Linked DNA regions of Homo sapiens. The protein of the gene in region 2 interacts with the protein of the main gene of each other region in a biochemical or structural test. Each region holds a gene or a part of one and is shown on either strand. Other genes may lie near its edges. The genes, in order: MYLK and PRKG2.

Evidence for each region.
Region 1: of the proteins of PRKG2 (region 2) and MYLK, one has a biochemical effect on the other in vitro, tested with the Homo sapiens proteins (one study listed by BioGRID).

What each region holds. Positions count from the first base shown.
Region 1 is NC_000003.12:123,877,230-123,892,885, forward strand, and holds the start of MYLK (myosin light chain kinase, smooth muscle), read right to left. Parts: upstream 7,104-15,656; 5' UTR 6,977-7,103; intron 1-6,976. UniProt on the Homo sapiens protein: Calcium/calmodulin-dependent myosin light chain kinase implicated in smooth muscle contraction via phosphorylation of myosin light chains (MLC). Also regulates actin-myosin interaction through a non-kinase activity.
Region 2 is NC_000004.12:81,206,926-81,223,015, reverse strand, and holds the start of PRKG2 (cGMP-dependent protein kinase 2), read left to right. Parts: upstream 1-7,793; 5' UTR 7,794-8,080; exon of another isoform or gene 8,081-8,748; intron 8,749-16,090. UniProt on the Homo sapiens protein: Crucial regulator of intestinal secretion and bone growth. Phosphorylates and activates CFTR on the plasma membrane. Plays a key role in intestinal secretion by regulating cGMP-dependent translocation of CFTR in jejunum.

The DNA.
Region 1 (15,656 bases), on a different chromosome or scaffold from region 2:
TGCTATGAGACTGGGCTTGGAGGTCAGATTATAGAGGCCTGTGAATGGCTTAAGGCTGTTCTGTGTGAAACAGGGAGCCACCGGGGGTTCCTGAAGGTGGTGACACAGTCAGACTATGTTTTAGATCAACAAAGCAATCAAGTGTACGATGTATTTGGGCTACAGAGAAGCCACAGTTAATACTCCAAGTGTGAGCTAGTACGGTCTGGTCAGGAAAAAATAGTAATATCAAAGTAAAACCAAGTGTTTCTCTGCCTGGGATAATCAGCAGGCCCACAGGGGAGGAGCTGAGTCCCTAGGTGCCTGCCCAATCACAATAAGAAGCCTGAGAACTCCCTAAAACATACTATTGGGTAACATCAGTAGCAACTGCGTTGATTGTATCATGTATACCATGAGTGACTATTGGAAAGGCAGGAGCTTTTGATAGTAATCAGAGGCAGGTTGCAAGATAAGAACTGTTCCTCCAGGCACGTTCTAAAGCCACCTGCTGCTTCCTCATGAACATACTCGTTTCCACAAGATCAGCAACCAAGTGATTACGAAAATGATCACCCTGTTGACACTAATAGGAAAATACCAAATGGAAATTTAACTTGGACAATGGGGAAGTTTAGGAATACATCTGCTTGAGTCATGTTCTGTGAATGGACTCAGTACTTGGCTGGAAAGATGCATAAAGCTCAGGAGAAAAGTTAGAATGAAGTATACCTAGCCCTACAGAAGACATAACTGAAGAAGTGAGGTGAATGAGTGGAAAGTGCCTTCTCATGGAGTGGCACACAGCAAATCCCTTAGAATCTTCTCTGAGCACCTCCATTTACCCCATTAGCCAGTCCTTCCACCCAGATGTACTGAGCACCTGTGGTGTGTCAGGCACCAGGCTATGAGTAAGGATACAAGATGAACCACAGCTGGTGACCTCCAGGAGCACAGTGCCTAGCAGGACACTACCCTTACGACCACAGCACAAGCACAGGTTGCCAAGCACGTGTTCATCTGCCTACAGCCTCATCAGATGAGTAGAGAAGGGCTTCTCTGTCCATTTAAAGGTGCACAATCTGAGACCTGGAGATACCACGTCACATAGCAGAAGACAGTGCTGAAGCTAGCCCCCAAACCCGGGGCATCTTCCTGGTGTTTCCCACAGCCTCAGATGACATTCCATGTAGTCTGACCCCAGGAAAGGGGAACAGCACTCGGTATCCAGGGGCCCTGAAGCAGACAGATGGCAGTGATCACAGGCCAGATAAAGGTAGGACATTCACTCCTGCTCCCCATTGGACCCTCAGACTAAAGAGGACAGCCTTAAAGGACTCTAGAGAAGCAGGTGGGCAGATGAGGGAACCAATGTGTATCCATTCTTCCTGCCTATGTCAGGCCGTTCACCTTCCTATGCCATCACCATCCTCCACCAGGATAGGTAGTGATGAGAACTCTGGCTGATGCTGGCTCTACTACTTGGATTTTTTTTTTAGACGAAGTCTTGCTCTTGTTGCCTAGGCTGGAGTGCAGTGGTATGATCTCAGCTCACTGCAACCTCTGCTCCTGGGTTCAAGTGATTCTCTTGCCCCAGCCTCCCGAGTAGCTGGGATTACAGGAGGCTGCCATCACACCTGGATAATTTTGGGATTTTTAGTAGAGATGGGGTTTCACCACGTTGGTCAGGCTGGTCCTGAACCCTGACCTCAGGTGATCCACCCGCCTTGGCCTCCCAAAGTGCTGGGATTACAAGCGTGAACCACGGTGCCCAGCCACCACTTGGCATCTTAGGCCAGAGTTTCCTCTTCAGTCCAATGCAAAGGTCAAGTGGACCTGACCCTTAGTCCTAACACCCTGTGATTCCAGAACTAGGAAGTGAGCTACAATATATGAGGCATGAAAAGAGAACACAAAGCCCCAGAAACCCAAAAGTCTTCTACGGGCCTCTGGGCTTTCACTCTGGCCACCCAATTGCCTCTTAATATTTTTGATCGAGTATAAAATAAAACAATTTCAGATGTTTCAGAAATATTATTGGCAGCAGAGGGAAAACAAGGCCAGAATGAAAACCACCCCCAAAATAAACCTCAGGACAAGCACACCTGCATGTTTGGGAGTGCGCTGCAAGGTCAAAGGTGTTGTGCCAGGGCCCAGCAAGGAAGGAGCTAACAGCCTTCAGACACCGGAGCCAAATGTTCCTGCCTTCCTCTCTCCTGGCAAATGCTTACCCTCCCTTCCTCCTCTCCATTTTTGAGGCCTTCCTGCATCACTCTAGCCCCTGAATTTCTTGTCATCCTTTAATTCTGTTAATGAAACTTGGAAATTGCATGTTGTCCCTGTTTTCTAATTACCTATGTGTTAGCTCTCTTGCTACCCACCCAGAGTCTCTTAGCATAGACACATTACCTTTGTTTTTTGTTGTTGTTGTTTGTTTGTTTCTTGAGACGGGGTCTCACACTGTCGCCTGGGCTGGAGTGCAGTGGCGCCATCTTGGCTCACTGCAAGCTCCGCCTCCTGGGTTCATGCCATTCTCCTGCCTCAGCCTCCCGAGTTGCTGGGACTACAGCCGAGTAGCTGGGACTACAGACGCCCGCCACCACACCTGGCTAATTTTTTGTATTTTTAGTAGAGACGGGGTTTCACCGCGTTAGCCAGGATGGTCTCAATCTCCTCACCTTGTGATCCACCTGCCTTGGCCTCCCAAAGTGCTGGGATTACAGGCGTGAGCCACCGTGCCTGGCCCACATTTACCTTTGTTTTATAAGCCTCTACAGAGCTCAATAGAAAGTAGACATCATTAGTGTCTGCTGGTTGATTTACAAGTCATTATATAGACCTGGAGAACACTGCCCGGTATATATAATAAAAGCTATTCTTTGTTTTGTGCCTATTTATATTCCTATATTCATTTAATTTTTATAACCGCCCTCATTGTCAGATGACAAAACTCAAGTCAGCTCACAGAGGTTAAAACCCATGCCCAAGAACACCCAGCCAGTAAGTGAATGGGATGGAACTGAACCCAAGTTTAACACCAAAGATCACATTCTGCCTGGCTGCCTCCTCCTGCCAGAAACCTGAATGAGACCTACTATACATCAGAAATCCTCATCTCTGAAAACAAGAAAGGTAAACAGCATCCTCAACTATAAAAGCCCCAAGTTGCAGGTGTTCGGTTCCCCCAAAGATTATGAGAAATAACCCATAAGGTCCTGGATTAACAAATTAGCATCAGATCTGAGCGCCCAGAGCCAAGGGAAAAAAAATCAAGAAGCAGGTCTGAAAGAAAAGGAAATCCTCTCCTCATCCCTTTTCTTTTGTCTCCAAAGGGGCTTTCTGTCTCCAGAGGGCTCTGCACTGAAGACCCAGGGAAGGAGAGGAGCAGAGGGTGGAAGGGGGGCAAGGAAGTACCAACAGAGGGGGGATGGGGACAACGTGGGAAATCTAAGAAGCTGGATCTACACAAAAATTTCCACAGCTCCCTAGTGGGGTGCCCATTCACCCTCAGACACTGAAGTACAGTGAGCAGGAGGGCAGGGAAAAGAAGGTGGTGGGAGCATCTGGAAACACAGCCTTACCTTCCAGCCCATGAGGCAGCAACTGTTGCTGGCTCTCCTCCTGCCCCAGCTGACTGGGCTGGCTGTCAGTAAATTTCATGGGGGCTGCAGCCCTCACACACCAGGTGCATGCAACAAGGAGGAGGGATGCACCTGTTGGCCCGCAGTGCAAATACGGAGGTCCACCCACCTTGAGTTTGTGAGGGGAATGCATTTGCTCAACCTGTTGGCATCAAACGAATGGAAAAGTGTGCAGCCAAAACTCAAGGAAGAATAAAGAGAATCCATCTGCAGAATGGTGCAGGTGGGAGAGGGGCGTGGCTTGTATGGGCACTGCTTCCCCGCACAACCATGTCTGCCTGCTTGTAAGGTAGGAGGCTGGGGGAGCACAGGGAAGAGATAGAAGTCACATGGCATAGGAGCTCATCACAGTGACATCGTTCTGTCCCACTCTGGCTCACTGCTGGACGGTTCCTTGATTCTGAGCACTCAGGCCACCCAATAGACCCTGCTCAGGCCTAAGCATCCACATGGACATTTTCCATGCAAATGGCCCTGCCTCATGTCCTCTGCATGCACCCTCTGCTGGCCAAGTTGAGCGAGGACATTGTCTTTTGTTGGGAAAGGATACTTTTTAAGTGTTGTTTCTAAATTTTACTACATTTGCTGAAAAGACAGGACAGGAAGCTTTTAAGAATGAACAATCTCCCAGCCTGTGTGGGTTGGTTTGAGCTGTGAGAGGTGCAGCTGGGCTTCCAAGTAGGCTTATATTTCCAGACTCCCAAGTATTGTTCTCAGAAAGATACTAAATAAGACACCCCATACTCATGGGACACTGTACCCATGTCCCCAAGCAAGGCTGCATTCTGAAACCCCCACCCCACCTTATGAACTTCCTAAAAGACAGACAAGCCAACTAGTTGTGTTTCAAACTCTAGGCTCATCTTATATTTTGAGGATAAAAGCAAGGGGTCATTCTCAAAGACACTGAGTATATGGTGACCCCAGCGCATTCACAATCTATGCCTCTGAGACCAGCAAAGATCTCCCTAGCCAGAGACCCAGAACCTTTCCCCACCCTTGGAACTCAAAGGCCTCTCCCCTCTGCACCATCTGGGTCACCTCCTTCTCTGACAAGCCTTCTCAGCAGATTACCCCCGCCACCTGCCAGCCAGGAGCCCCTCCTCTGCAGTGACTGTAGCTGTCTGTCTACCATTTTCAGGCAGCAGGTGGGGCCACCTGGCCTTACCAGTTAGCCTAGGAATGTTCCAAGGCCTAGTCTGCTCTGCATATGTTTTCTAAGATCTGGCCCCTGGGGAAGCAGCCCCTGATGAAGGGGTGAGCAAACCTCACACAAACAGCAACTACTCTGGCTGGGTGCAGTGGCTCATGCCTGTAACCCAGCACTTTGGGAGGCAGAGGTGGGCGATCACTTGAGCCCATTAGACTAGTATGGACAACATGGTAGGACCCCATCTCTACAAAAAATCCAAAAAACTAGCCAGGTGTGGTGGCACACACCTGTAGTCCCTGCTACTCAGGAGGCTGAGGTGGAGGATTCCTTGAGCCTGGTAGGTCAAGGTTGCAGTGAGCTGAGATCACGCCACTGTACTCCAGCCTGGGCAACAGAGCCAGACCCTGTCTCAAAATAAAAAATAAAAATAAAAATAAGACAAGGAAACATCTACAATGCTGCAGCTACCCTCCTCCTCAGCTAGCCAGTTATTACACAAAAGAAACTGAACATGGGAGATAAACCAGCATAAATGCTTCCCCACTGTGGGGTGGTTCTCCAAGCTCATGCTTAGCTGCAAATGAGGTCCAGCATCCTTTGTATCATCAGTGAACAATGAGACAGACCTGCACATCTTGGCAAAAAAAGCTCTTGTGCATGTCCCCAGAGTACCCGCTACCCAATCCAGCATCCAGAGTCCAACCACTCCGGACCCAGGACCAACTGCTCAGGTTCCTCCCAGACCCAAGGCTCCTGGCCCACTGAGAGTGGGAGAAAAAGGGGTAACCTCACTCTGGGCAGGAAGGAAAATTCCATGCTGCCCTAGAGCACTGTGGTGCCAGCAGCATCATCCTCCACAGTCCCACAGTGTGCAGGCGGGGAAGAGACTAAGAGAATCACGGAAGAGAGAAGGAGGTCAAGAATTTAAGAGAAAAGAAAACAGTTCTATTAGAACCCTAAATGCCTTGTAGGAACCTAGTAAAGTCACCAGATGCACCTACACTTCTCCCAGAGACTTGCATTGTTGATTCCTGATTCTTTGAAGTGTGGGCGGGGTTCCCCAAATGGTCCTCCTAAGCCCACCATCTGGAAATAATTTATTGATAAGTGCATTTTGACAAAAAGTATTCCATTCAGGTGGAGAAGAACACAGCCTCTCTTGGAAGGGGGATGCAGCTCCAGGGCAGGCTCTCAAAGGCTGTGGGGTGGGCGGGTCATTGCATATACTCTGGTCTTTGCACTTGGGGAGAGGAGGGATGGTAAAAACCAACGGCCTGAGGTCTGGCATCATGCCCACTGCCCAGGTGTTTCCCTACACCCACCCAGCTCCCTGAATCACAACAGCTAATTTTACTCCCTCTAGACTCTAGTAGAGCTGGGTCTTCTCCTTCTGGCTACGAAATAGAAAGTGCCCCGCACCCCAACACACACACCCCAATCTAAAAAAAATATATATCCTTGAAACCATTTCCCCATCAGCCCATCTTCACATCTGCAATGCCACTCCTAGAAATTCAGTCCTTTGGGTCTTGAAGGGTTTTAGTTCCATAAGTTCCAGGGAGGGGTCTACCTCAACCATTGACAACTCACATCTCCTGAGAAGTTTATCCAAAACTTTCCAACTGCAATCATCGGCGAACAAGGTCCCTCAACAATGGGACCCCAGTTAACGCGAAGGAGGCAGAGCGAGGTAAGGAGCTTAAATGAGGAGTATGGAGTAGGAACAAGTCTGCAAAGCCCGCGCCCCAGCTTCGCCTGGGATGGCCAGGTCTGGCACTCGCGGGCCGCCTTCCCCGCCCTACCTTCCCGGAATCACATTTGGGCTGGAAGGACCTTCACGTGGCACCCCCTTCCCAGAGGCCGTCACCGAGTCCTCTAGCGAGGGTCTGGGAGCTGGGAGAAGGGTCCGCTTCTCCTCCGCCCCTCAAATCAAAGGCACCCCCTTCGGATGATTCCTAGAAAGGCAATCGCATCAGTGTCCCCAAGCACTTCATCTCCCCAAAAGAAAACTCGTGCAGCCTGGCGTCACTGGGGTCGTCTCCTTACGCCCCTGACTCCTCGCCGCACCCCGGGGCCCCTCTCCATTAGGGGAGTCGGGAGGCACAGACGGTGGGGGTCCCAGCCCCCACCCAGAACTCCCACCCTCGGAGCCTTGACTTCCAGGGCCCGCGCCTGGACAAAAGCATGGGGCGGGCTCACTCACCCGCGCGGCGAAGGCGGCCCGGGAGCCGGGGCACCGGCGCTCGGCGGGGCGCCCCGGCCGCAGGCGCACAGCGCGGGCTCCGAGCTCGCTCAGCGCCCTGCTGCCGACCGGGCGGCGCGGGGAGCCCGCGAGGCGCGTCCGGGACTGGGCAGGGCGGGGCGGGGCGGGGCGGGGCGGGGGTGAGCGAACCGGCGAGAGAGAGAGCAAGTGGGAGAGCGGAGAGCGGACGCGCGCTGAGGAGAGCGAGTGAGAGCGCGGCGCTACGGGGTCAGGACTCAAACCACCCGCTCCAGCCCCCATGCACTGATTTGCATGACATTTGCATAGCGCTCGGGGAGTGGACCTGCTGCCCTTCCCGCCACGCCCACCCGCCTTCTGCCTCGGAGTCCGGAGCGGAGAATCCGCAGCCAAACCTAGCGCCAGACCCGGGCCCCCCTCGCACTTATCCTGCACCGCCCCAGTTAACTCCTCGCAGGCGGCGGTCAGCGGGCTGGTACTGTCTTGGTGCGTGTCTTAGTCCTACACTGGGAGACCTAGGCCTTAGGTCGGGGTCTGATGCTAGCTTCGTGAGCGTGCATGAGACACTGGCTGCCTCTGGGCCTCAGTTTTCTAATCTGTAAAATGAAGATGTCAGCGGAACCATGGGGCTAAAGTTTTAGTGCTGGAAGGTTGTCTATGTAGTTTTTTTCAGACATCCTCCAGTGGTGCAACTCAGCCCCATGGTTCCTCTGACATCCTCCCTTTGTGTGTGTTAAGAATCTCTCATTGGTTTGGAAGATACCTACAAAGTTCTTTAAATTAAAAAAGGGGAAAGGGGAGGGGGGGGAGGGGAGGGGGAGGAGGTGTTTCTGGTTTTGGCTTGCTTTATATTTAGTTTGCACCCAATATGAAATATTTTATAGCTTCTGATCTCTTCACTTGGACCTTCTTTTGTTTTTTTTAAAAAAACTGTTTACTGCAGGTTAAGGAGTGTTTTTAAAAATTTTTTAATTGTAAAATAAAACATAAATACAGAAAACCACAAAAAACAAATATATAGATATATAGACTAGTGAATTATTATAAAGGGAACATCCTTGTAATCACCACCTGGATCAAGAAATAGAACTCTGCCAGCCACCCCAGGAGCCTCTCCATGTGCCCTACCTCAATGACAACCCCCTTTCTCCCTCCTCCCAAAAGTAACCACTAACCTGACTTTCATGTAGTCACTTCTGCTGCTTTTGTTTTTCTTGGTATCTTCCAAGGGTGCACCTTACCCCTCCCCCCACTCTTTTTTTTTTTAATTTGATTTGCCTTTTCAGTCTTTTCCTTACAATTATTTGTTAAATAACTTAAGCCCTTGATCTGTGAGGTTTTCCAGAGTCTGGGGGTTGCACATTCATGAGGCAATTCAGCATGTTTCTCTGTCCTCTGTATTGACAGCAAGTTGGCAGCTGATCCAGGGTCTTCCTCAGACTGAAGTTTGATGTCTTTTGTAAGATTATAGATGGTTGTGTGTTCTTTTCTTCAAGAGGTACATGATCATGATGTCTGGTGTTTGCTCTTTTTTGAGGTTAACAGCCGTCGATGCTCAATTCCTAGATTCATTAATTAATTGAAGTTTGCAAAATCATGGTATTCTAATAATTTTGTTTTCATTTATTAGTTCATAAGTGGATAAGGAGATGCTTCCTCTCATCTACTATTTGATTACCCTGAGATAGGAAAGGCACGATGAATACCTGCTTTTTTTTAAAAAAATTACCCAGTTTTCAAGTTAAGGAATTGATTCTCTGTCATTCTTAGATTTCTTTAATATCATTATAAATTCATGAATTTAAATATATTTGATAGGTTTCCATCTACGATATTAGAGCTCAAATTGTCCCATCTTTGGCCAGTAGGAGCTTCTTCAATATGGCTCCTGGCTCCTTTTGATAAGATTCTAGTAGTCTTTTTTTTTTTCTCTCTCTCTCTCTCTCACTAGTGTGCAAAGAGCTTCAAAGACCCTAGAAGTCTTTGATAGCTTCCTTGCTATCTGATATGACAAGATGTTCCAGGCACATCTGTACATTTGCTGCCTCAAACCTGGAATCAGCCATTTCTCCAAGAAGCTCTAGTTTTTTTGTTTTTTCTTTCCTTCCTTCCTTCTCTCTCTCTTTTTCTTTCTTTTTTTCTTTCTTTCTTTCCTTCTTTCCTTCTTTCCTTCTTTCTTTCTTTCTTTTCTTTCAGATGGAGTCTCACTCTGTCACCAGGCTAGAGTGCAGTGGCACGATCTCGGCTCACTGCAACCTCCACATCCCTGGTTCAAGGGATTCTCCTGCCTCAGCCTCCTGAATAGGTGGGATTATAGGCACGTGCCACCACACCCAGCTAATTTTTGTATTTTTAGTAGAGACGGGGTTTCATCATGTTGGCCAGGATAGTCTCAATCTCTTGACCTCGTGATCTGCCCACCTCGGCCTCCCAAAGTGCTGGGATTACAGGCATGAGCCACCCCGCCTGGCCAGAAGCTCTAGTTTCTTTTGTTGAAATTTTAAGATAACAATATGAGCACTAGGAGTATTCATTGTTACTAGGTTGGTAACTGTTTCTAGGCCTTTTCAATAGACAGAGCTACTAAAGAATACTTCATTTTTTTATATTCTAGAGAAATATTATTCTTCATAATATTTTCATCAGTTTATATTATTTCCAATTTAATTTCAGGACTGTAGTTTTTACTTAACATATATTACATTAGGACCTCTTTTCTTTCATGTAGAGAATTCTGGTTCTCAAGGACAAAAGGGAGGATGAAATTAGAATATCCCAATTTACTAATTTGCTTTAGTTTGCATTAAACATATAATAATAATCTCAGAATAACAATATTAATACTACCATCATCAGTTTTGATTCTTGAAAACAGTTTTTTTTGCATATGCTATCCATCTTTTATAGTTATACTCTATCTAAATTATCAGCTTCTATAGCCATCTATACCATAATCTTCCTATTTAACCCTAATTTAGTCTTAATTTTACAGTTCTACAATTCTAATCCTAATTAAAGTTCAAATATATATTTAATGCTTACCATTAGTTCCTTATGTTTATGTATCTTTAGTCATTTTGGTTGTCTGAAAGCTTGTCCTCTACTAGATTCCTTAGGAAGGGCTCATGGAAAGAATATGCTCTGAGTTCTTGCATGTTGCTTACAGTTTGTTCATGCCATTTTACTTGAAGGTCAATTTTGTTGGATTCAAACTACTTGGTGTCTTGGTCCAGCTGGGTTGCTATAACAACAACAACAAAAAAAAAAAACACAAAATAAGTGGCTTATAAACAAGAAACATTATTTCTTATAGTTCTGGGGGCTGGGAAGTCCAAGATCAAGGCTCCAACAGATTCAGTATCTGTTGAGAGCCCTCTTTCTGGTTTGTAGACGGCACCTTCTCACTTTGCCTAGATGCCCAAATAACTTTATCTTTTTCTTTCAAATCCAGTAATTTTATTAGAATGTTTGTTGGTCATTCTAGTTTGAAAGTAAACAGTGTGTATTTCTTTCAAAATGTGGTTTCAAATACATATATTTTGTTAATTTCAGGAAAATTTTCTTCAATTAAAGTCTTAAATATTTGTTCTGTTTTGGATTGCTTTAGACTGCTTCTCTGGAGACTTCTATTATCTGCATATTGAACCTTTTTTGTCTATCTTCAACATTTGTCACTTTCCCTTAAATCTTTTTAATTTCTTTCTTCATTTGTTTTTAAGTTTATAAATTTCCCTCCTTTTTACCTTATTTTCTTTTAAGTTTTTATTAGTTATATTTATGTGTTCTTGTGTTCCTTATAGGTCAATCTTTATTTCTCAAATGCTTTTTAAAATGTTTAATTCCAAAAAAAAATAAAAAATAAAACGTTTAATTCTTCTGTGAGTTCTGTTCTAATTTCTGAGTTTCTCTAATTCTGATGTATGTTGTTCTTTCATGTTTCATGTCACTCAGTGTGTATTAGCTTTTCTAGGACATTATAGCTTTAATTTTTTTGAGAATATCTTTCTGGAGGTTATTATGATCTTTATTCACTTTGTTGTAGTAGCTATATGAGAGTTGACCTTAGTATTTTTTTTGTTGATCATTTTTACATGAATTTTGTTTTCTTGAACTTTTAAAAGGAGATTTGGTCCAGACAGTTTTTCAAACTTCACAAAGCTTTCCCGTTTGTTGTTTCTGAGTAGTGTCAAAAAATATATATGGTGGCTGGACTTCTAAGATTTCCTGGCTCTGTTTCCCTCACTCACTTTTATCTGGCTCTTCTTTTTCTTTCAACTTGCATTAGTCAGTTTTCACACTGCTATAAAGAGCTACCTGAAACTGGGTAATTTATGAAGAAAAGAGATTTAATTGACTGACAGTTCCTCAGGCTTAACAGGAAGGATGACTAGGGAGCCTCAGGAAACTTACAATCATAGCAGAAGGTGAAGGGGAACCAAGTGCTTTCTTCATATAGTGGCAGGAGAAAGAGAGAATGCAGGGGGAAGTGCCATACACTTTTAAACCATCAGATCTTGTGAGAACTCACTTATTATCATGAGAACAGCAAGGGGGAAATCCACCCCCATGATCCATGATTTAATCACTTCTCACCAGGCCCCTCCTCCAATTCAACATGAGATTTGGGTGGGGACACAAATCCAAATCATATAATTCCACCCCAACCCCTCTCAAATTTCATGTCCTGCTCACATTGCAAAATATAATTATCCCTTCTCAATAGTCTCCCAATCTTAACTCATTTCAACATTAACTCAAAAATCCACAGTCTAAAGTCTCATCTGAGACAAATAAATCCCTTCTGCCTATGAACCTGTAAAATCAAAAACAACTTAGTTACTTCCAAGATGCAAGGGGGATATAGGCATTGGGTAAATGCTACCATTCCAAAAGGGAGAAATTGCAGCCAGGTGCAGTGGCTCACACCTGAAATCCCAACAATTTGGGAGGCCAAGGCAGGTGGATTACTTGAGGTCAGGAGTTCAAGACCAGCCTGGGCAACATGGTGAAACCCTGTCTCTACTAAAAATATTTTTAAAATTAGCCAAGTGTGGTGGCACGTGCCTGTAATCCCAGCTACTTGGAGGCTGAGGCAGGAGGATTGCTTGCACTGAGGAGGTAGAGGCTGCAGTGAGCCAAGATCGTGATACTGCACTCCTGTCTGGGCAACAGAGGGAGACACAATCTCAAATAAAAAAAAGGGAGAAATTGACCAAAACAAAGGGGCTACAGGCCTCATGCAAATCCAAAACTCAGCAGGGAAGTCATTAAATCTTAAAGCTCTAAAATAATCTCTTTTGAATTCATGTCTCACATCCAGGGCATGCTGATGCAAGGATGCTCTTCCAAGTCCTTGGGCAGCTCCACCCCAGTGGGTCTGCAGGGTATAGCCCCTGTGGCTACTTTCACAGGCTGGCATTGAGTGCCTGCAGCTTTTCCAGGTGCATGGTGCAAACTGTTGGTGGATCTACCATTCTGGGGTCTGAAGGATGGTGGCCTGCTTCTCACAGCTCCACTAGGCAGTGCCACAGTGGGGACTCTGTGTGGGGGCTCCAACTCCACATTTCCCCTCCACACAAACCTAGTGGAGGTTCTCCATAAGGCCTCTGCCCCTGCAGCAGACTTCTGCCTGGACACCCAGGCATTTCCATACATCCTCTGAAATCTAGGTGGAGGTTCATGAATTAGTCCATTTTCAAGCTGTTGATAAAGATATACGTGAGACTGGGAAGAAAAAGAAGTTTAATGGACTTACAATTTCATATGGCTGGGGAGGCCTCACAATCATGGTGGAAGTCAAGGCAGAGCAAGTCACATCTTACATGAATGGCAGCAGGCAGAGGGAGGGCTTGTGCAGAGAAACTCCCATTTTTAAAACCATCAGATCTTGTGAGACCCATTCACTATCATGAGAACAGCACAGGAAGGACCCATCCCCATGACTCAATCATCTCCCACCAGGTCCCTCCCACAACACATGGGAATTATGGGAGCTACAAGATGAGATTTGGGTGGGGACACAGAGCCAAACCATATTATTCTGCCCCGGCATCTCCCAAATTTCATGTCCTCACATTTCAAAACCAATCATGCCTTCCCAATAGCCCGCCAAAATCTTAAATCATTTCAGCATTAACTCAAAAGTCCACAGTCCAAAGTCTCATCTGAGACAAGGCAAGTCCCTTCCACCTATAAACCTGTAAAATCAAAAGCAAGTTAGTTACTTCCTAGATACAATGAAAGTACAGGCATTGGGTAAATATGGCCATTCTAAATGGGAGAATTTGGCCAAAATAAAGGGACTATAGGCCCCATGCAAGTCCGAAATCCAGCAGGGCAGTCAAATCTTAAAGCTCCAAAATGACCTCCTTTGACTCCATGTCTCACAACCAGGTCACACTGATGTGAGAGGTGGGTTCTCATGGTCTTGGGCAGCTCTGCCCCTGTGGCTTTGCAGGATGTAGCCTCCCTCTTGGCTGCTTTCATGGGCTGGCATTGAGTGTCTGTGGTTTTCCAGGCGAATGGTGCAAGCTGTCAGTGGATCTACCATTCTGGGGTCTGGAGGACAGTGGCCCTCTTCTCACAGCTCCACTAGGCAGTACCCTAGTAGGGACTCTGTGTCGGGGCTCTGACCTCACATTTCCCTCCCACACTGCCCTAGCAGAGGTTCTCCATGACTTCCCTGCCCCTGTAGCAAACTTCCACCTGGGCATCCAGGCATTTCCATACTTCCTCTGAAATCTAAGTGGAGGTTTCCAAACCTAAATTTTTTACTTCTGTGTACCTGCAGGCTCAACACCATGTGGAAGCTGCCAAGGCTTGGGGCTTGCACCCTCTGAAGCCACAGCCCAAGCTCTATATTGGCCCCTTTTAGCCAGCTGGAACAGCTGGGACACAGGGCACCTAATCCCCAGGCTGCACACAGCACAGGGATCCTGGGCCTGGTCCATGAAACCACGTTTTCCTCCTAGGCCTCCTGGCCTGTGATGGGAGGGGCTGCCACAAAGGTCTCTGACATGGCCTGGAGACATTTTCCCCATTGTCATGGGGATTAACATTTGGCTCCTGTTACTTATGCAAATTTCTGCAGCAGGCTTGAATTTCTCCTCAGAAAATGGGATTTTCTCTTCTATTGCATTATCAGGCTGCAAATTTTCTGAACTTTTATGCTCTGCCTCCCTTATAAAACTGAATGCCTTTAACAGCACCTAAGTCACCTCTTGAATGCTTTGCTGTTTAGAAATTTCTTCTGCCAGATACCCTAAATCATCTATCTCAAGTTCAAAGTTCCACAAATCTCTAGGGCAGTGGTAAAATGCTGTCAGTCTCTTTGCTAAAACATAACAAGAGTCACATTTGCTCCAGTTCCCAACAAGTTCCTCATCTCCATCTGAGACCACCTCAGCCCGGATTTCATTGTCCATGTTATTATCAGCATTTTTGTCAAAGCCATTCAACAAGTTTCTAGGGAGTTCCAAACTTTCCCACATTTTCCTGTCTTCTTCTGAGCCCTCCAAACTGTTCCAACCTCTGCCTGTTACCCAGTTCCAAAGTTGCTTCCACATTTTCAGGTATCTTTTCAGCAGCACCCCACTCTGCTGTTACCAATTTACTGTATTAGTCCATTTTCACAATGCTAATATGCTAATAAAGACATACCCAAGACTGGGAAGAAAGAGAGGTTTAATGGACTTACAGTTACTCATGGCTGGGGAGGCCTCACAATCATGATGGAAGGCAAGGAGGAGCAAGTCACATCTTACATGGATGGCCGCAGGCAAAGAGAGAGCTTGTGCAGGGAAACTCCCATTTTTAAAACCATCAGGTCTCGTGAGACCCACTAACTATCTTGAGAAAAGCACAGGAAAGACCCGCCCCCATGATTCAATCATCTCCCACTGGGTCCCTCCCACAACACATGAGAATTATGGAAGCTATAAGATGAGATTTGGGTGAGGACACAGAGCCAAACCATATCAGTTCCCAAAAACTCAACTCTTGCCTTCTGTGCACCCCCAGGCCCAACACAACATGGAAGCTGCCAAGGCTTGTGGGTTGCACCCTCTGAAGCAATTGTCTGAGCTGTATCTTGGCCCCTTTTAGTCACAGCTGAAGCTGGAGCAGCTGGGACTCAGGGTGCCATGTCCTGAGGCTGCACAGAGCAGCCAGGCCCTAGGCCTGGCCCATGAAACATTTTTCCCTCCTAGGCCTCCAGGCCTGTGATAGGAGGGGCTACAGTGAAGGTCTCTGAACTGCCCTGGAGACATTTTCTCCATTGTCTTCAATATTAATATTTGGCTCCACTCATGCAAATTTCTGCAGCCAGCTTGACTTTCTGTCCAGAAAATGGGTTTTTCTTTACTACCGTATGGTCAGGCTGCAAATTTTCTAAACTTTCACAAGAACAGCACAGGGGAAATCCACCCCCATGATCCAATCACCTTCCACCAGCCCCCTCCTCCAATTCGACATGAGATTTGGGTGGGGACACAAATTCAAACCATTTCACAACTCTTCCCTGTCATGTTAATTTTTTCACTTTTTTATTGTAGCAAAATATACATAACCCAAAATTTATAATTTTAACCATTTTTTTTTTGAGACGGAGTCTTGCTCTGTTGCCCAGGCTGGAGTGCAATGGTGTCATCTCGGCTCATTGTAA
Region 2 (16,090 bases):
TTTGCTTCCCCTTCACCTTCTGAAATGATTATAAGTTTCCTGAGGCCTCCCTAGCCATATGGAACTGCGAGTCAATTAAAACTCTTATTTATAAATTACCCAGTCTCAAGGAAGTTATTTATAGCAGTGTGAGAACCAACTAATATAGGCCTGTTGGCCATTGCACATGCTTTTCCTTCTGTCTGGCATATTCCTTCCTAGATCATCTTGTGGTAGGCTTTGTTTCATCATTTGGTCTTCACTCAAATGCTCCCTCTTAAGAGAGGTCTTCTGAAGACCACTTCTCAGAAGTAGTTTTCCATTCCCTTTTCTAGTTTTTCCTTTTCTCTTCTGTTATTTCTTTTATTAAAATACTCTACTCCCTAACGTTCTAATGTGTTTTTTGTATCTTTTTATTTTATGTGTTTATGCAAAATGAATAATGTATTTTGTGCATATTATCTTTAATTTATGCAAAGAATATTGTGTTTTATATCTATATATATCTCATTGTACTTCTATTTTCTACTAGATACTCTTATTTTTAAGGTATATCACTTTGCTTTGGGAACATCTAACTTGTTTCTAAGTATTGTTTAACATCCTATGGCATATAGCCATAGGAACTTACCTATTTACCCTCCCAGAGATGCATACCCAGGTGCCCTCTAGCCTCTAATCATAACAATAAAAAGGAAGTTGCAATAAACATCCTATGGCATATAGCCATAGGAACTTACCTATTTACCCTCCCAGAGATGCATACCCAGGTGCCCTCTAGCCTCTAATCATAACAATAAAAAGGAAGTTGCAATAAACATCCTAGTACATGCTCCCTTATGGACTCATATGGGAATTCCTCTAGGATATATGGTATACTCAGAAGTGGAATTGCTAATGGGCTGTATGTATTCTTAATTTGAGTAAATCATTCCAGATGGTTCTCTAGAATGGCTTTACCAGTCGAATCTCCTACTATTGACCCAGAATTTAAGTTTATGAGAACAGGACCTATATCTACCTTGTTTCACTAGTTTTTATTGTTTAAGTACAAGAGGAAGAAGTGGAATTCCTTCCTAATGGGGGCTTCTCCTGGCTATTGTAAGACGTAAGGCTGGGGCAAGGTACCAGTAGCATGAGATAATGCATTCCATACCCAACTGTGTAAGGAGCATAGTAAAGACAGTGAGGAAGTAAATAGAGGATCAAGGAACTAGAGGTCACTATAGGGCCAGAAACACATGAAGAGAATGTAATTGAACAATTAAGCTTGAAGGATGGAAAGTTGTTGTCACAGAGTATAATGCCTTATTTTAGTTTGGTTTCTCTAGAAAACAGAACCTAAGGTAAAGCTCACATGTGACACTCTATTTAGAATATTATCCTAGGGAAGCAAGAATGAGCAGAAACACAGAAATAAAAGAGAGAAGGAGAAAAAGCAGATTCAAAGTTGTGCATTACCAATTTGTCTACAGCTTCTCTAGAAAACAAAGCTGGTTGCTGAGTCATGCCAGAGTAGCCAGAAATACAGAACCATTGCATCTTTGAACAGCTCCTGGGTGGGCAGGAAGGGTGAACAATTTATTTGTTGTCTTCATCCTGGCTCCTGTCTCTCAGTGGTCAAAGTCGGCTCCACAGGTCATTAATTCCACTATATTTCTGGGTTGTGTTTTGGGCCCCTCCAGGCAGCAGTGAGGGAAGCCAGAGTTTCTGTGGGTTCAGTCAGGTCAGCCCAGGGGCCTGGAGCTGCTGATGCTCCCTCTACAGTGGGTGTTATGAAGGTCATGCTGGTCTGGCCCTGGATCCAAGGGAGGCCGAGGTCAGTGACAGCATTAAACTGGGCTTTAGGACCATGGGGACAACACCAGCCATTGCTTGGGCCACTCTGGCTGAGAAGCAAGGCAAAGGGCTGAAGCCCTGGAGGCAGGCAGGACTGTGCAGATCTGGGGTGCATATGCACTCACAGAATTGGTGATTTTAGAGGGATTTCCAGGTGTGACTATGGGAGTGATGGCTGAAGCTGAGATGGAGCTATTAGATATGGGAAGACTAACGAGTTGAGACGTTAAGTGTTGGATGGGTAGTCCAGGTTGACTCTGAAATAGCACAGGATGGTGGGATGCTAAATACTGTGAACCTAGTGCATAGTTAGTGTACACTGGCTATATTATTTGATGACTACCTATACCTAGAAAAAAAAATCACTATTTAGGAAAGTCAGTGTACCCTGGGCTGAAACTTATTATGTATAGATAAAACCAGAAGACCAAATTTATTTATATTTTGTACTTTTAAAGTAAATTTTACTATTACTTGATTGTCAATTGGACAGACTATTAATTTCTAATTTATATCATTATTTTAAACAATTGTCTATTCCAGAAGGAAAATCAAGAACATGTTCCAAATTCTTTCTACGGAACTTCAGAAACATAAGCAAAATTCTTCTGGATAACAAATCATGGCTTCCTATCAACTCTAGGATTGGACCTGCTGTGTGTGGTACTGGGAGAGATACAGCAAAGATAATCAAATGTGAACCATGCCCTCCAAGAGTTTACAGCTCTGTAGGAGAGATAAATGTAGTTAGGCACCAATAATACAAAGTAGAAAGTGATAAATACCACAAGAAGGGCTGAGACAAAGTACAGTGCTGGCAAGTTCTGGAAAAGGGGTGGACACCTAGAAATAATCAGTGAAGCTATGAGATGAGAGACAGAGAGAGAGAGAAAGGGAGAGAGAGAGAAAGAGAGAGAGAGAGAAAAAGAGAGAGAGAAAGAGAGAGAGAAGAAAGGGCTAAAGCCAGAATCCTGGGAAAATTTGGACTGGGTGGGAGTGGAAACAGATGATGGGGGACATTCAGAGAAAGCATGGGCAAGAGACTGTTCAATTCTAGATTGGGATCACACGAAGGCTCGGCTGCTGCTTGGAGGAGCTTGGAAATAGCCCAGATGTACCAGGAGTTAATGCCCATAACACTCTCATCCCCAACCGGGATCACTGGGAAGGCATTGGTAAATGACAGGCTACTGTCCCTTTGGAAAGAGGAGTAGAAAGAAGACTGATGCTTCCAATGCTAGGCCTGGAAGATTGTATGACATTATTGATGAGCTTCCACAGAGGAAGTAGAGGCACCACATATGGGGTTCACTTTCAAGTCTCTAGTATCTTAATAGACAGTTTTTTTTTTTTTAAAGAAGATAGTAGATTAAAGAGTGAAAATTTTAAATTATTTTTTAAATAATGAAGAGACTTGAGCTGGGTATGTTCTGGAGATATAAGCATTGATACAACAAAGTCCCTGCTCTGAAGTCTAATAAGGGAGATTGGCAAGTTAACAAGGATTTGTAACTTGGAGCACCATGTTGCTGTGGGGTCATGGGAGAGAAGCACTATCCTTCATGGTCAGCAAGACTTCATGGAAGAGGTATTGAGGTAAATAAAGGGATTGTGGGCTGCACGGAGCTTAGATAACATGAAAATTTGGGTGGATCCAATTGGCCCAGTTTTATAACCATATTGAGTGATGCTGGAACCTGGACAACAAAAGCATCAAAGGCAAATGGGATTTTCTCTTGGCTAGGGTTTGGCAAAACCAATCAGAAAGGAGGGCACTATGACTTGAGGTTCTAGCCTTAGCAACTGAAATGGCTGCTCATGGAGTTAGTGTGGTAGGATAAGGAAGCCTGAAGATAAATGAAAGAATAAAAGAGGGAAGGAAAGAAAACCAAAGACATGGTGAGAAAATGGAGTGTGAATCACCAGCATGGGAGTTTTGTCCCTCTTATGTCCCCAGGAGATTTTCTGCTGATCCATAGAAGGGACCTCAGTTGGGCCTTGGAGGGCTCCAAGCTGGAATTAAAGATTATGAGCACAAGGCTGATCTGATGGGGTGCCCTGACAGGAGTCTGTGTGCAAAGGTAACTATAGAGCCTCCTGTGTGGAAATTTATCCCAAGAAAATAAGATTGGCATGGGATGATCCTGAACTCAAATTGAGTCATCCAGGGGCTTGGGAGTCTGAATTAAGTATGGAAACATTACTGGATCTCTTCCTAGCTCAGCCTCTTGGATGCAGGTCCCTGCAAGAAACAGAAAGTGGGCAAAACCGGGAGGTTTCTGTGAAACACTTGGGCTGCTTGGGGACTTTTCTGTGTATAAAACAAGGGAAGACAGGCCTTTTATCATCCCCATTTCCATAGGCTACCTCTGAACTTTGACAATGTGAGAACTCTGGTGCTCTGGTGACAGTGCTTAGCAGAGACCAGGAGACCTAGTGGAGCAGAGGCTTACCTAGTAGGAGGAGGATTAGTCATGAGTATGTCCCACATCGCCCATGTGCTTAGATTAACATTGCAGACGGGCCTCTGAGGGGCCTGTGTTCTTCAGTCAATGGCAAAGAAAGGCCAGTGGATTTTAATTTCTCGTTGTCTTTGTACAGGTAGAAGAAGTCAAGATTTTAGGGTCTGGAATTATATAGACTGGCTCTGCAACTTATTAGCTCTGTGAATTTGATCAAAGTTACTTAACTCTCTGAGTTTCCTTCCTCAGGTGTGCTTACCTCCTCAGGTCAAAGGAGTAAATGAGAAATTACATGGAAGCCTTTAACTCATGACACAGAGTCCAACATCACAGGCCAGATTCCTTCAGCCTGAAGGTGCTTCCTCCTCACTCCCTGTCTCACTCTTACTCATCTTAAGTTTAAATGCCCTCCACTTTTTTTTTTTCCAGAGAGACATTATTCTTGAGCCCCTGTAGCAGACTCTAGATTGCCTACCCAGCATCCATTGCCACCCTCTCCTTTTTATTCGGGTATGCACTTCTCAAAGAATGCAATCGGGAAGAGTTAGGAACCAGTCCTGCAGAGCCTAAGAGGCTGGGAATGGTGATTCTCCCCTCCACCTCCAGCATTTAGGTGTGAGCACATGCTTAGTTTGGATTAATGACAGGTGAGAAGTCTCCTGGAAGCTTCCAAGAACGATTTCCCGACTCTGGAAAAGAGAATCTCTGTGACCTTTGGGCACTGTTGGGATTGCCCATAATAAATGGAGTTGTTCCAGTCATCCTGGGGCCATGGGTGGAGCAGCCCCAGGGGACAAAGCTGCCATACTGGGAATGGCAGGGGGAATAACGGGAACAGGCCAGGGCCTTCCCAGACACAACTGTGTTCCTGAATTCACCAACTAGAGCCTCCTGACCTTGGAACTTCTTGCCTTGTGAAACAGTAAGTTTCCTTATAATTTAAGCCATTCTAAATTGGGTTAATTATTAATTGCAGCCTCCCACATCTAAATTATAACCCCATATTTTTTTCTCTCATTTTCCTTCACAGTATTTCTCCCACATATGCTTACTTTTGTGTTTACTTATTTAATGTCTGTTTCTCTCACTGGATTGTACACTCTAAGTTGGCAGAGATCACAAGTTAATTTTGTTCACCATTGAATTCTAAGTATTTAGCACTGGGCCTGAGATGCAGGAGCTGCTGAAAGCACATTTGTTGAAAGACTGAATTAAAAGCTCAAAAAGTGGTCACTTTCCTTCTCTTCCTCCGTTTCCTTGTTCAGCATGGTAGAGTTGTAGATTTGACAGAGCATAGGATTGCTGGGAGGGAACTTAGGTTCCCCCTCAAACTCTTCCTAGCTGGGTGACCCTGGGCAACAGCCTGCACTGCATCGACAGCTTTCAAGCTTTTACCTCAATGAACGGTAAGAAAGTACATATGACCCAGTTGACCCAGTGTGCGTGCATACTCTGCTATTTTTTATTCTATTTGGTATCATTTTAAAAATGCTGGCTTTGACCCAGTACATCAATTTTATAATCCATTAATTAGCAACCCATTGTTTAAAAAAGCCCAGGACTCAATGAAATGTAAGGACTTTGCAGCATTATTCACAATAGCAAAATCATGGAGTCAACCTACGTGTCCATTAAGGGGTGATTGGATTTATAAATGTGGTTTTATATTATATATATACACATATATATATATATATATATATACAAAATATATACACACACACTATGGTGGTATACACACACATACACTGTGTACCTATCACCTGAAAAACTGGGAAAATTTTTTTTTGATTCAGGGGTACTACACACACACACACACACACACACACACACACACACACACAATGGAATACTACCCAGCCACAAAAACAATGAAATCATATCTTTTGCAGCAACATGGATGGAACTAGAGGCCATTATCCTAAGTGAAATTACTCAGAAACAAAGTCAAAAACTGCAGAATCTCTTATAAGTGGCAGCTAAACAATGGGCAGGCATGAGTATCCAGAATGGAATAACAGACACTGGGGACTCCAATAGGTGGGAGGGTGGGAGGTGGGTGAGGTAGGAATTACAACTTATTAGGTACAGTGCACATTATTAGGGTAATAGGTGCGCTAAAAGCCCAGACCTCACCACTATGTGTTATGTCCGTGTAATGCGACTGCACTTGTACCCCTGAATCTGAAATTTTTTTTTAAAGTGAAGACTTTGAAAATCTGTTTTTCTCCTTTTTGTCATTAAATCGCTAATAAAAATTCAGCCCATCAACTTAAAAGTCCATTATTACAGTGACATACAATTACTTATTTTCTCTTTTCTTGTGGAATTCTTCCTCACTCCTTTCTCCTCTAATTTTTTTTTTTTTGAGGTCTTTATAAAATGTACAGACTCTGGGATAGCTTCATGAAAAGGTACTTTGTGTACTTTCGCGATTTTCCTCCAGTTAGCACAAAAACAAACAGGACTATATTCCTCCTCCTCTGAAACTTAATGGTCTCATTCAACATATTTTACATGGGCCTCATTTTTAATATAAGTTTATGTATGTAACAGTGTATACAAATGTTACATGAGCCCCACTGCCACCATGTGGTTTAAAAACCCAAGAGAGTTGGTTGTAACATTCTCTAGATGCACAGTGAGGAATAGACCCTCACTATACTTTCCATCTCTCAACACAGAAACTGCCCTTGTCCTCCGTGAATTTGCTGGTGAAATTCCTCTGGGGGCAGAAGGAAAGGGAAAAAGCCACATGGAGATCTCACAACTCCAGAGCACAGCAAATAATGCGGTGGGGTGTACATATATATTTAGGAAACCATATTGCACCCTTCAGGAAAAAAAAATGTACTCAAAAGGTGACGAGAGAGCATTATCTTCTTGGGTGATCAAGAAAGCTCCCTTCCCAAAGACCTGCAGATTCGGAAGGTATAATCTCTGTCCCTCGAAACTCGATTCAACCCCTGCCCCCAGCATCACGTGAACTGGCAAACTAGATGTAAGTTATGGCCCCAGAGTCCGGGAGGGGCGCGTCGACGAGCTGCTTCGGGGTCACATGTCTTCGTAGAAAGGCATTGGTGTGACAGAGGAGGGCATGTCCAGGGTACGTGCGCCTGTTTGAGCTCTGGGAGGGAAGGCGAAGTGGAGAGAGCCTGCAGTGAAAACAGACTGGAAGGATGGAGGAAAGGGAGGGGAAGGAAAAAATGAACACCTCCCTGAACTTTCCTCTCCCCTCGTCCCACACACTTGAAATAGAAATAATAACATGAACAAAAATGCTTACAACCACGATGTTATCGCCCTACTTAAGTTGCCTCACTATGGAGGGTATGGGGTATAAAGTGCAGACTGCGGCTGTGTCGGGAGTAAAGGTTCGGGCTAGTGTGCGTGCGGGCGCGGGTGACCCCACCTTTAGGGAAGCCGGCGCCCAACTATCCAGGCAGTAGCCCCGGCTGACCCCCTCCCTCCTCCTTCCCTCCTCTCTTCCCTCCCTCCCTGCGTGTCTCCTCTGCACCGGCCCCCGCCGCGGAGCCAGGCGGCAGCACCGACGCCGCCGCAGCTCCTGCCCGCATCGCGCTAACCCGCGCCCCCGGCTCACACGTAGCCGGAGCGACTGAGCCGGCAGCCCCGGGCCCACGCTGCGCACCGTGTGCACGGCGGGGCTGGCTGAGCTGACCTGCGCTGGGCTCCGGCGCCGCAGGCGGCTGGGGAGGGCGGCGTGGGAGAGGACGCTGAGACGCAGGGGCGGCCGCGCCGAGGTGACAAGCTGCGCACCTGGAAAGTTACCCGGCTGTCTGGTGAGGTTCGTGGGCCGGGGGTCTTGGGCGCCGGGGTGTGAGGGCGCGCGGGGAGGGACGGGGTCGGGGTGCGCGCGTGTGCATGCTGTGAATGCGTTGCGCGATGTGCGCCTCTATTCCACACCCAGCCGGTCTCTTGCTTGTGCTGTTCGAGTGTGGACGTGTGTACGCGTTGCATTCGCTCGGTGTGGCAGCGTTTCGTGAGCTCCTGGAGGCAGGGAAAGGCTACTTGTGTTTAGAGGTTCTGTTGAGGGCGGGAGGGGCTCAGCCCCAGTGGGGAGTCCTCAGGGTTCTCTAGGTTTAGCGAGGAGAAGCGGTGGAGGCTGTTGCTCCGAGCTAGGGGCTTGGCGGTGCTGTCAGGGCTTGCGCTCCCGGCTTTGCTTCGTCGAGCTCTGGGTAGTTGCTAGGGGACAGTCCTCAGGCAAGGACTTTTAGGAGTCCTGGTAAACTTGTGTGGGTGTCCTTTTGTCACTCTGGGCACCGTGAGGCGCTTTCATATTTCTGTATTTCTCGGTGATGAAGAAACAAGAGCAAACAAAGCCCAGAAACCAGCCACTTTGGGGATGAGAAAAAAAGAAATAGGTTCAGTTCTGAGAAGAACTACGGTGCAACTACGAAGCAGCTGAGGCCAGAGCTGACAATAAAAGCAACGCATGCAGAATTAGTAGGTAGGAAGGGTGACGCTGGGACAAATGCCTTGATTTCCTGATCTTCATCTTGTTCCCCAAGTTCCCAGGGGCTTTTTCCTTCTTCTTCTTCTCCTTCTTTTTTTTTTTTTTTTTAAGGAAGAGAGCAACATACACCTGCCCCCACCCCACCACACCCCCATATTTAGAGTTTCTTAGAAATTGTCTCTTTTCTTTGCAAGTTTCTATTTAACTCATGAAGAAGGCGATCATCCCACATAACATACACTAGCTGTTTTCAGTACTCCTGTTTAGTTTTGCACAGGAGGGTATGAGCTAATATGGTAGAGAATTCTCTATGGAGAATTAGAGTGCATCCTCTCCGTTGGAACGCTGTATGACTAAGAATAAACGACCTGAAAAGATGATGCCCAGGGATCTTTCTCTTTTACGTGAAATCCTTAACTCCAGTTCTATGAAGTCATTACAAGTGAGGCTAATGAGAATTCACCTCACAGTGAAGGCATATGTTGCCTGGCTGTTGCCCAAGTCCTGTGATCCCTTATTGTCTTGCTTCCTCTAGGCTATTTTTCCTATGAATTATCTCTTCTTCTCCCATGTTTTCGTTTTTCATATCTCCTGTGCTTCATTATCCTGGAGCTACAGACATTTTCAAATTTTCATTATTTTAAAAATCCCTCACATGAATCATGATATCGTCTTGCAGGCTCTACTCTTAGTGTCAGCTCTTTCCATGGTCCCTTGTAGTTGAGTGTCTATCCCCACTCTTTGACAAATCAGATTCAGCACTTTTCTCTCTGATCTCATTTGCTGTGACAGGCCTGTGGGATGTGAGGTACAGCCTGCTCACCTCTTAAGGATCTTATCTGCATGGCCTTTCTGATGCTTCTCCTAAATCTCTTATTGGTACACGTGTTCCTTCTCCTTTGTGGTTTGCTTCTCCTCCTCTTCTCCCACAAATAATATCCACAGATATTACCTATATGTTCATAGGTAACAATAGAGACATTCCTTTCTTACCTCCCTTAGTGATCTCATCTACAAATGGTACTTCAAGTCTTCTATGGAGCAATCTCTTCCCTTGAGTTTTCTTTTTTGCTTCTACCTGCTAGACATTTGCATCATGATGACCCACAAGCATCTCAAACTCAATATATGTAAATCCAGACTCATTACTGTCTTTTCAAAGCATGCTCATTCTCCTGACTTCTGTCAGTGCCACAGTGTCTAGCCCATACACGGTGCCCTATGTGTTCTTTTTGAATGACTGAATGAATGAAGAGTAGATAGTAATACTTTCCTTCAAGCCTCCTAAGATCAAAACATTGAAATCATTTTGATTGCCCTCCCATGCACATCCATTTAATTACTACATTAGAGATGCTATCCTGCAGTGTTCCTCCTACTCACCCTCTTCTAATATTAATCTCTTCACATCCTCTCTCACTTTAACCAAAGCAGTACCTTCTTACCATATCTTACAGTTTTCTTTCCAACCTCATATAGACCTAGACACTCTCCTCTCCTCATCGCTAATATCCTGGGCACTTGCCTCCAATTCATCAACTTCAGCCTCTATTTATGTATCAATAACTGCTTAATATTTTCAGCTTTCCTCTTTCTTTAGCTTTTCTTGTCCCTCATTTCTTACTGCTCACTAAACTTCTCTACTTAAAGTTTCCACTGGTGCTTCAAACTGAGTATATCCAAAATTAAACTCACTGTCCTATCCCTCAAATCTGCTCCTCATTTTGGTCAATGACATTACCTTTTACCCAGTTGCCACAGTATAAACTTTCAAATCCTCATCGTCTTTCTTCTTGCCACCACTCAAAAATTCTGTCAGCTATAATCTTCTGACCTAGACTTACAGACCTACATTTCTGTGTGTTTGCTTGTTTATCTGTTAATGTAGCCCCCCAAATAGCTGAATTTGGCAGTCAAATATAGGATAGTGGCATTCATAAAATTCACCGCGAACATTCTGCTGGGGGGGTGGGAGGGAGGCACTTTAAAGAGATAACCAACCTCCAGAGTAGCTGCAACTTTGGTACAACAAGGTCATATGATTTCCTGTCAAGAGAAAGTTTTTCTCCAGCCAGGATGCTGTGGACAGAGAAAACAAGCAGTAGATTCCAAACTGAGCCCCGGGTCAACAGTCACAAGGTTGGATGGACAGATGCTTTTAATTGTGGCATTAATGTGAAAGTGAGCTGTTTCTCACAAGGACAACAACTCTGTGTGGTTTGCTTCAGGGAGAAGAATCAGGGATTTATATATTCAATTATTTTCTAAAGGAACTTTAGAGAGACAAGCTAATGGTAACATCAAATGTATCAGTTTCCTATCCACCTAGAATATTATCTGTAGAAGTCTGTATAATTCACTCCTCTGATTTCCAGCTGAACTGCCCATTATCATTAAAAAATCAATTCTGGTTTCCATGATTTATTGAAGGGAAGGACATTGCAGTGTTACATATAGCTGTAACTTTTATTGAATCTCATATGGCAATGTTTTTCTCTCTGGCTACCACGGAGATGGTCAATTTTTTTCTTGAGTTCAAGAAGTTCAAGTCATTAAATAGTGTTGGGACTCTGAGCTTTAATCCTTAAACTATCACCTCCTATTTGGATTGGTGCAATAGTATCTTCCCTTGTCTTACTTCCTCTAAGCTCTTTTTACTCCATTCCTTATTTATGAGAATATTATTTTCCTAAAGGACAAATCTGACCACATAACTAGAGAACTTAGTGTATCTTAAGATTCAGATACCATAATGTGGCGTAGGAAATTTTTCAGTATCTTACTTTTTCAGTTTCATTATTCATTACTCTCCTTCCATCCATCACACATTTCAGCCTGTCCCTTGACTGTGCTATCAGCTTTCTTGCATTCATTTCTTAATACATAATTCTTTTCTTAAACTAATAGACTTTCTATATTGTAGAAATTTTAGGTTTATAGAAAAATTGAGTAAAAAGCACAGAGTTCCTATATACCCACCTCTTAGCACTTTCCCCTGCTCTTAACATCTTTCATCAGTATGGTACATGTGTTACAAGTGATGGAACAAATATTGATGCATTATTATTAAAGTCCATAGTTTACATTGGGGTTCATTCCTTTTGTATATTCCATGGGTTTTGACAAATATATAATGAAATGTGTATATCATTACAGTATCATATTGAATAGTTTTACTGCCCTATAAATGTTCTTTCCCACCTATTCCTTTCTGTCTTTCCCCAAGCTCCTGGCAACCACTGATCTTTCTATGGTCTCCAAGTTTTGTCTTTTCCAGAATGCTATACAGTTGAAATCATACAATGTATAGGCTTTTCAGATTGGCTTCTTTCACCCAGCAATATGCATTTAAAGTTCCTTCATGTCTTCTTGTTGGCTGATATTGCTTTTATTATTGAATAATATTCTATTATATGGATGTGCCACAGTTTGTTTATCCGTTTACCTACTGAGGGACTTCTTGGTTGCTTTCAGGTTTTGGGAATTATAAACAAAGCTGCCATAAACATTCATGTGCAGATTTTAGTGAAAACATATGTCTCATATCAGTTGGGTAGATACCAAGAAGCATGACTGCTGGCTTGTAGAGTAAGAGTATATTTAGCTTTGTAAGAAGCTGCCAAATTGTCCCCTAATGTAACTATATCATTTTGTATTCCCACTAGCAATGAATGAGCATTCCTGTTGCTCCATATTCACACCAGCATTTGGTGTTGTCAGTGTCTTGGATTGTAGTCATTGTAATAGGTGTGTAGTGGTATCTCATTATTGTTTAAATTTGAGATTCCCTAATGACCTATGATGTTGAGTTTCTTTTTATATGCTTATTTATCAACTGAGTGCCTTGTTTGGTGAGGTGTCTGCTCAGATCTTTTGCCCATTTTTCAGTTGGGTTGTTTGTTTTCCTATTATTGAGTGTTCAGAATTAGACATATGTTTTAGAAGTACGTTCTCTCAGTCTATGGCTTGTTTTTTCATTTTCTTCTTTTTTTTTTCAGAGCAGAAGTTTTAAATTTTAATCAAGTCAAAATTGTCAATTTTTTCTGTCTATGAATCAGGCTTTTTGGTCTTTTATCTAAAAAGTCATCACAAAACCCAAGATCACCTAGAATTTCTCCTATGTTGTCTTTTGGGGGTTTTGTAATTTTGTTTCTTACATCTAGGTCTGTGATCCATTTTAAGCTAATTTTTGTGAAAGTTATAAGATCGGTATCTAGATTCTATTTTTTTAAAAATTAATGCCTAGTTGTTCCGGTACAATTTGTTAAAAAGACTATCCTTTCTCCATTGACTTGTCTTTGCTCTCTTTTGTATTCTTTGATCTTTGGATCAGTTGACTGTACTGTTTAGGTCTACCTCTGGGATCTCTGTTCTGTTCCATTGATCTACTTGTCTATTTTTTCACCAATACAACACTATATTGATTACCGTTACTTTATTAGTAAGCCTTAAAGTTGGACAGTATCAGTTCTCCTTCAATATTGTGTTGGTTTAGTACATGTTTTCAGTTCAATAAGTTTTTCCTCTAAGATAAATTCTCTTGTTGGATAAATAATGTTAAATGTAATAATAATAGTAATATTTAATATTTCTTAAACAAATACTATATGCTAATACCTGTGCTAAATTTTCATCATGATTTATCTCATTTAATCCTCTAAAAACTGTAAATGACAGGCAGCATTGTTTTGTCTATCTCTCTATGTTTCTATCTTTTTCTTCCATTATTGACACTCAAGTATCTTGCCTGAGGGAATATAGACCACTAAATGAAAGTGCTTCCACTGGGACTCTGGATCCATAACCTTAGCCAGCACCATACCATCTCCCATATTGACAGATATACATGTAGCTATACACACACATCTATATATGTGTGTGTGTGTTTGTCTGTGTATATTTATAACAGACTCCAGATGGGTAGAGAGAGAAATAGATATTATCTAGACCAGAGCCAAGATTCTGGTTTCAAACTGCTATAGGGCTGGAGGAAAAACAGAAAACAAAGCTTAATTCCTCCCACATTGACTGCCAGGTGTTAATCCGCCTGCAAGCGCCTTCACAGTCACTTTTGCTTTTCTTATGTCTCTTCTAATTACCCTTGGTGGACAGCAATTTCTAAATGGCGATTACATTAATATAATAATTTGTAGTCTTATGTAGTTTCCTCTCTTCTAGCGAAATGCCACTACTCATTCGATTGCTGTCTCCTATACCTAACTGCAGAAGAGTATTGCCTCCAGAGTGAACTATGGTTTTTGGTTGCCTTCAAAGATAATTAGGTGGGCCTCCATGTTTTAAGCATTTCATTGCAGTGTGTGAAAATAAATAGGGGCTACATGAGGGAATTACAGAGCTTCAATTATTAAGTCCTTGTAGTTATGAACTGGCTCCGTGTCATTCATAATTCTTTTTTTGTCTCCATCTTTTGGTGGGGAACTTGTTTTCCAGGCTGTTTGTTTCCAAATGACTTCTTTTCTCAATGGAAGATAGAATCCAGGCAAAGTAAGAGTCCCTTACTCCCGGCCACCACCTCCCAAAGGAATAATGTGCATCTTTAAAGAGTTTTGTCATTTGAGAGGCTGAGGCAGAAGGGTGGTTTGAGCCCAGGATTTCGAGACCAGTTTGAGCAACATAGTGCAAGACCCCATCTCAACAAGAAAATAAAAAAAATCAGTCAAGCATGGTGGTGTGCCTCTGTAGTCCTAGCTACTCTGAAGGCTGAGGCAAGAGGGTCACTTGAGCCCAGGAGTTTCAGGTTATAGTGATTGCACCACTGGCCACTGCATCTCATGGCTGCAGAATGAGACCCTGTCACAAACAAACAAACAAAAACCCACAAAAGACTCTTGTGGAAGACATCCAGTTTACTAGACTTCTGTCCTACCCAGAAATGATCCTCTCTGGGTTTTCTTCACACCTAGACATTAATTGCCTGTTTCTAGTTACATACTATAATAAGAGCTGCTTACCTACTTCATGTCTGATACCTGCCAGGCATCATATGGGGTACTTTACAAACGTAATAATCATAGTAACCCTACGAGATGGATATAAATATATTCCCTTTTGTAGATGAGAAAGTAAGACTCAAAGATTTTTAGGAATATATAGAAGGTTGAGAAAGAGCAGATTGTTTTATAACCCTAATTGGCCTGACTCTATTGCTCATGTTAAATTCTGATCTTTATCTCCAGACTCATTTCTTATTGCATCATGTGCTGCCCTCTGACTGTAAGAATGATTTTAATAACCTGCAGTTGCCAGACTGATGGAGCAACATCCTATGGTTCATTTCTCCTTGTGGCTAGCAATACATATTTGAGAAATAGCTTATCTTAGTGACTGATACAGGAAACAGAGTGAATCTAATTAGGTTTTATGAAGCCAGAGACTTGAAACCTTGGCTTCAGGGACAGCAATATTTAAATGGATGAACTAAGTAAGAAATCAGACTAGTATTGAGCCATTTAGTAACTTACTTACGTATCTTAAATTAGTGACTTGAAAGATGAGTTAGTTACTCTCATTTTACCCCTCTTTGAAATTCTAAATAGCTTGAAAGATTTACATAGCTTCCAACTAAACCAGAGGATAATTGGTGTTTTGGGAGAATTTAACATCCTCTACCTAACTGTGCTTCAAGTTTGTAAAATTATTGGATTGGTACAGAATTTTTTGAATACCATCCATAGAGCAAAAATGATTCTAAGCCTTTTCATATTTGTAATGCTAAAACTGTTTTCTGTGTCAAATTTGACTGCAAATCCATGATGGGATATGCCTCTGATATGGTATATGATACTTTGGTCTTAGTAAACAATTTTTCCATGAACAAAAATGAGTTAGTTGTTAGTTTAATATTAGATTTGAAAGTTTTTATGCGTGCTTTTTTATTTATAAGGCAAATCCTTTTCCTCCTACCATCACATCTCCCTTCTTTCTCTACTGACCTAAGAATACTTCTCCATGAACCAAGAAGGCTGTCTAGAAAATGGGTCACTGATGCGTGTTAAAAACGTGTGTACACATTAATTTCAGATTTTTTGGAGCACCTTTCTTATGCTTGTAATTCATAATCTCATTCAGGTTTATTCTCAGATTTCAATATAACATATTCTGAATTGCTTATTCAAGGTACAAGTATGTCCAGGGCTACTTCTTTGAATTCTAGTCTCTTCATCCTTCTTATACATTCATAATATATAAGATCAGTAAATGCTGCCAAGTCAACAGAAACTTAAAGGTTAAACCTGCCACATCTCTGCAACATATTAAGGCAATTCTCCAAAGGCTAATGTTTATTAATGACCACTTTGAACCTGAATTCTATGAG